Linked DNA regions of Homo sapiens: region 1 is linked to region 2. A link means that fine-mapping ties the variant in region 2 to the expression of a gene that starts in the linked region. Tissue or cell type: monocytes after LPS. Region 2 holds a variant in brackets; the other region holds the start of a gene. All regions are shown on one strand. Distances are from middle to middle.

Evidence for each region. PIP is the estimated chance that this variant, and not a neighbour inherited with it, causes the effect.
Region 1: MTRR starts here. The variant in region 2 is fine-mapped to the expression of MTRR in monocytes after LPS (Fairfax 2014, PIP 0.95). The same link has a PIP of 0.9 or more in B cells, NK cells and monocytes after interferon gamma.

Annotation. Positions count from the first base shown.
Region 1 is chr5:7,867,739-7,870,387 of GRCh38, forward strand. It overlaps MTRR (5-methyltetrahydrofolate-homocysteine methyltransferase reductase), which reads left to right and starts at 1,410. Exons shown (of 15, transcript NM_002454.3): 1 at 1,410-1,477. FASTKD3 (FAST kinase domains 3) reads right to left here and starts at 1,293. Exons shown (of 7, transcript NM_024091.4): 1 at 1,241-1,293; 2 at 1-458. The coding sequence starts at 345. RefSeq lists silencers at 1,303-1,742, 1,753-1,802, 1,863-1,912.
Region 2 is chr5:7,891,627-7,894,475 of GRCh38, forward strand. It overlaps MTRR (5-methyltetrahydrofolate-homocysteine methyltransferase reductase), which reads left to right. Exons shown (of 15, transcript NM_002454.3): 11 at 1,101-1,287. Among named protein-coding and RNA genes, the nearest start is that of MTRR, 24 kb to the left of the region's middle. The variant G/A (reference allele first, on the strand shown) is at 1,382.

The DNA.
Region 1 (2,649 bases), 24 kb before region 2:
CACTTCTTCTGATGAAGTCAAGTTGCTCAGTCTCCTGTAAAACATCTGACTCTCCTCATTTTTAACATTTTGTTCAAGCCTGTCGCAGTCAGATACTTGAGAGAACACTGGTCCACCGAGTGGATGAAGGTCATTTCCATTTTTCGAATGAAACTTTTTACAATGGGCATGATGGAATTTGACCCCGAAAGGCTCAGGTTGTCGTGAACACAACCAAGGGCACAGACGCTCCTTGACTACCTTGTGAACATGATTTAGAGGTTTATTTTTTAAAGCAGCCAGAGCTCTATGCATCTGAAAATCAGATAAACGATAAAGGTTCTTCCTCAAGGTGATTAATGCCATACCATCAGATTCTCAATTTGATAACTAAATTAAAAAATTTAAAAACACATGGTTAAATACATTGAGAACATGATTGACCCAACATCAATGTTTATGAAACTACAAACGAGTATCTGGAAAAAAAAAAAAAAAAAAAAAAAGGATGGTTAACATATAAACACCAGAGGGGCAAAGTCTCTGCATCCTAGAGTTAGAAGAGTGGCTGACATTGAACAATAACAATCGCTATTACTTGCTAAACACTGTTGTAGGTATTCTATTAACTTACACAGATTCAGTACTTTTACTATCATTTTACACGAGGAAGAAGTTGAAGCACAAAGTTACTTTGCCCAGTTTATGCAGGTGGTTAAGTGGCAGAGCTAGGGTTCAAACTCAGGCAATGTAGCTCTTAAGGGTGGCCCTTAAATGTTGGTTGAAGGAAGAAATTGCATTTGGATAGAAATCAAAGAACAGGTAAAGTGGGCAAAATTAGGCGAGGTTAGAGCAAGGCAAGGGTAAAAACGCGCTGGAAAGGCCCTAAGCTGTTGGTTTCCCCTCGGTGTCGGGAGAAGGTTAGTGTTGAAGGAAAGGGTCTACTTTGTCAATGGAAACAAGGTAGGAAAAGAAAAAGCAAAACATAGATCAATGAAGGGAGAAGGTGGGGCGGCCAGTCCAGATCTAAAGACGGTGCGGGGGGATTTGGCAACACGTGTGTGCAAGACAGACAGACGGGAGGCCCCGCGGCGCGTTTTCCTAGGAATGAAAGGGACCCGCGGGGCGAGCACCCCCAAACTCGGCGCCCCGGGGACCTGCGCTGAGACACGGGCCGGGCGGCGCAGCCTGAGGAGAAAGCCGGCCAGGTCTTTGACACCCAGCCGGACCAACTGCGCGGAGACCCCGCGTTGACACCTACCGCGCTCTGCCGGGCAATCACTCCGGGTGGTCGCGGAAGCGCCTGGGCGTCGTGGGCCTCCGTAGCAAACGCGGGGCGGGAGCACGACTCAGGGCGGCGCAATGTGATTGGCCCAGGTCCCCTTCGGAGCTTTCTATTGGTCCTGGGTACCGAGCATGGGCGCTGCGTCAGTGCGCGCTGGCGCAAGGTTGGTGGAAGTCGCGTTGTGCAGGTTCGTGCCCGGCTGGCGCGGCGTGGGTAAGCTGCCTGTCGGCTACGGTTCCCGGATTCCGGCCGCTCGCCCTGCACTAATCTCCTGGGAGAGGCGGCCCGGGGCGGGGGTGGGCAGCCGGCTTGCGCCCGTGGTTCCCACGCCCTTCGGCCTCCGGGGGTCGCCGCGGGCGCGGGCTGGGGCTCGGACTTGGCCTTTGGCCTTTGGCTTTGGTGTCCCCGGGAGCGTGTCCTTGGGCTCGGCGTCGGCCTCTGCCGCGGGAGGCCCCTGGGCGGCGTGGGGTCTCTCCTCATGTTCTGCCTTTGGTTCTAGGCGCTTTCCAGGCCTAGGGAAACCGCACTCGGGGACGCGGGGAACTGGGGAACATGCCGGGTTGGGGCGGCGCGCTCCGGGGAACCCGGGACGTTCCGAGCGCCCACCCGGCGGGACGCGGCCGTGAGTTCTGCCCGCGGCCGTGAGCTCTGCCCACCGCCTCCGCGCCGCTTCCGGGGCTGCTGGGGCCCGGGCCTCCGCTGAGAGTCGTGGGAAGGTGGTGCCGGATTGTGGGGCAGTAGCAGGGATGAGGGGTTGATTGATCCTGGGAAGCCCTCAGGATGTGTGTTTCATGGGAAGTGATAGAAATTTTAGCTGTAGTAAGGTTTTCATTATCGTTTCCACCGTTTTCTGTGAGCTGTCAATGTGTAGTGTTTTCATATTGTTTATTCACTCATTCAGATAACTTATCGAGTACCAGTTTCATGCCAGGTGCCGTTCTGGGCGGTTCATTCACCGAAAGCCAAGCTTTTGGTTTGGGTTTCAGTTTAAATCTGTCTCTGCAAATTGACAGCCCACCAATTTTAGCCGTTAGATGAGTATGGAAAAAAATCTGTGAGTGTCGTTTGTTTTACTACTGCTTATCTCTTGCGGAAAAACGTGTTAGTAAAATGTTTAAGTGGATTGGAAATATTTTTTCGTTATATGCACCCGTTTGTATATATGCCCATACACTCACATATTTTTGATTTGCATTAAATAATGAAGGAGAGTATGTGCTTCAGTTACCTTTAGTACTATGATTAGTTTGTTTAGCGTTAGGATCAAATAAGAACCAAGAATCCTATCATTTTAATATAGTTTTTACTTTTATCTTTTTTTAAAAAGAGGAAACCAAAAGCTATTTAAGACTGTTGTGAATGATACTGTGGCTCAAGTTTTGTTC
Region 2 (2,849 bases):
CAGTACTATGTTTCCCCACTTAGGAGTCTCAGGCTCCTCCACATGCTTCCTGTGTCCGTGTGCCCAGCCACCTTCACTGAGTGGCAGCCGGAGGCAGGGGAGACAGAAAAGTTCCACTATAAAACATTTGATGAGTCCGGGCGTGGTGACTCACTCCTGTAATCCCAGCACTTTGGGAGGCCGAGGCGGGCGGATCATGAGGTCAGGAGATCAAGACCATCCTGGCTAACACGGTGAAACCCCGTCTCTACTAAAAATACAAAAAATTAGCCGGGCGTGGTGGCAGGCGCCTGTAGTCCCAGCTACTTGGGAGGCTGAGGTGGGAGAATGGCGTGAACCCGGGAGGCGGAGCTTGCAGTGAGCCAAGATCGAGCCACTGCACTCCAGCCTGGGCGACAGTGATACCCTGTCTCAAAAAAATAAAAAAAAAGAATATTTGATGAGCACTGGCTTATAGGATTCTCCCTGTGGCCTTCATTCCATTGCACAGCCTCTACCGTTTTCCCGTCTGGCTCTCTGTTTTGCCTTTCAGTAATAATACAAGAAGGTGCACCATTCTTTTGGTTGAAAGGGGAATTAAGAATGAACTCAAGTTCTTTCGCATTATTTACCGTGTAATGTGAAAAGAAATCTACTTTTGTAGGGATGTCTTTTAAAGATGTTTTTACTTTGAATTTTTAGTTTTCTCCTTTCTGGGTGTATACTTCAGTCACTTTCAAGTTTTATGATCTTACCAGTAGATAATGTATGGATATTTGTTAGAATTTATCCCCATTTCTTCACATCTTTATAATAAATATTGAGTGAATGAATCCTTTACATGAAGATCCTTAGGGCATATTAGATTTTATAAATATCATCTAGTCCTAGTGCAAGCAAATAAAATTGGAAACTTTCTTGAATAACAAAATGTAGGGTGTGAGAGTGTGAAGGTTGGGGGCAGTTTTTAATTACGTAATAATGGCTTTCCTCTGTGAGGATTTGGAAGGTAGATTAGAGCCTATAAGGAAATATTTCTAAACTGAATAAAAGGATTGGTTTGACCCATATGTGTAGTAGTACTGATATCGAGTTCAAAACTTGTCTGTGTATCTTTGCAGCTCAAGTTTATTTCACCCAGGAAAGCTCCATTTTGTCTTCAACATTGTGGAATTTCTGTCTACTGCCACAACAGAGGTTCTGCGGAAGGGAGTATGTACAGGCTGGCTGGCCTTGTTGGTTGCTTCAGTTCTTCAGCCAAACATACATGCATCCCATGAAGACAGCGGGAAAGCCCTGGCTCCTAAGGTAAGAAATTAGTACCTTAACCTCAGCATTGTTAACTCATACTCTTTGTTTCATTAGAAAAAACAGTGTTGTCTCACCCACATCATTCATTACT[G/A]TCATAAGAAAATTTATGCTGTTCTTGAATTTTAAAATCTCTATTGCAAGAGCAGAAAACTGTTTACTTCCATGTACTCTTTAACTAGTGTGTGTATTTTCTGAATGTATAAAGCATGAATTTTATATAGTACGGTCTTTGCTTGTCCTATTCATGGAAAAGAAGACCTTTTATGTTGATATTCTTGGTACATTGGCCTGGGGAGGGGTGGAGAACTGTCTAGGAAGTATTTAAGGGGGGTGATGAGAGACAGTCTCATTTTATGTTTAAGATGTATACTGCCTCTCAAATAAGTAGTTTTACATTGGGAGTCTGAGGGCAACTAAAGATTAATTTTATATTGTCCAATTTTGGCTAGTAGGGTCCCCGCATCCCTGTTTTTCTGCTTTTGTTATCTGTGGTGTCTGACATCTGAACTTGTGCCATTATTGAGAAGACATATGGCTGTAAATACTTTTACAACACCTAGGAGTAAAAGGTTATGTGATTTTCTCAACAGATTGTGGACACTTTACACTTGGACTCAGTGACATCTTTTTATGTTTTGATACGGCACTCAGCAGAATTTCGAGACCACGTGTGTAGGCAACAGTTTAAAGTTGTCCACAAGAATGGTTGAAATAAAGCAACATTTCAGGCTTTATCATGAAGTCCTCTTTCTTCATAGTAATGAAGAAATCAGTGATTCACTTGGAGTGTTGTCTTAGGAGAAGTTTGGTTTCTTTATTAGAGTTGAAAGGTTCATAGACCTCAATAGTGGGGATTAGGACTTCTTGGGATATACTTGAGAGGATAAGGGATGATTGCTGCTTGAAATTGCCGTTTAACTTGATGTTTTTCCAGTCTGCTGCCTGGAACAGAGAGATGCTTTATTGTGTTCTCTATACATCATGTATTCATTATACATCAAAATATTAGGAACCTTACAGAAACTTTCTTTTTTGAGAAGAAATATTATAGTACTGATATACAAGTATATGTCACTTGGTGATTGTATAAAGATAGCAGATGATCTCCAGAACATTAAAAACAATGTGTGTCCATCATGTATCGTAAACACTAAACATGGGTGCCTTTCACCTACTCCTCCTTTCCTCCCTCCCTCTCTTCGTCCTTCCTTCCCCATTTTAACAGATTTTTATTAACTATCCAATCTATATGCAGTAGAAGTGCAGATATGAAGGATATAATTTAAAACTATCTGAAATTACCTGTGCTTGTGTTGTGTTTTATTACAAATTATACAGAATGTTGACTTTTGCAAGACCTATCACCCACCCTGCCCTACTATGGCGGATAGTACAGTTATTCACAGATTAACCCTGCCACTGATGTTCAGCCTGGCTGTGTGAACAGAAGGACATCTGCCACATCTAAGCAGGAGCACTAAGCCTGTGGGCGTGGTGTAGCTTGGCTCTCTTCTTCCTATCTGCCATGATATTCTCTCCACATAGACCCTCAAGTGAAG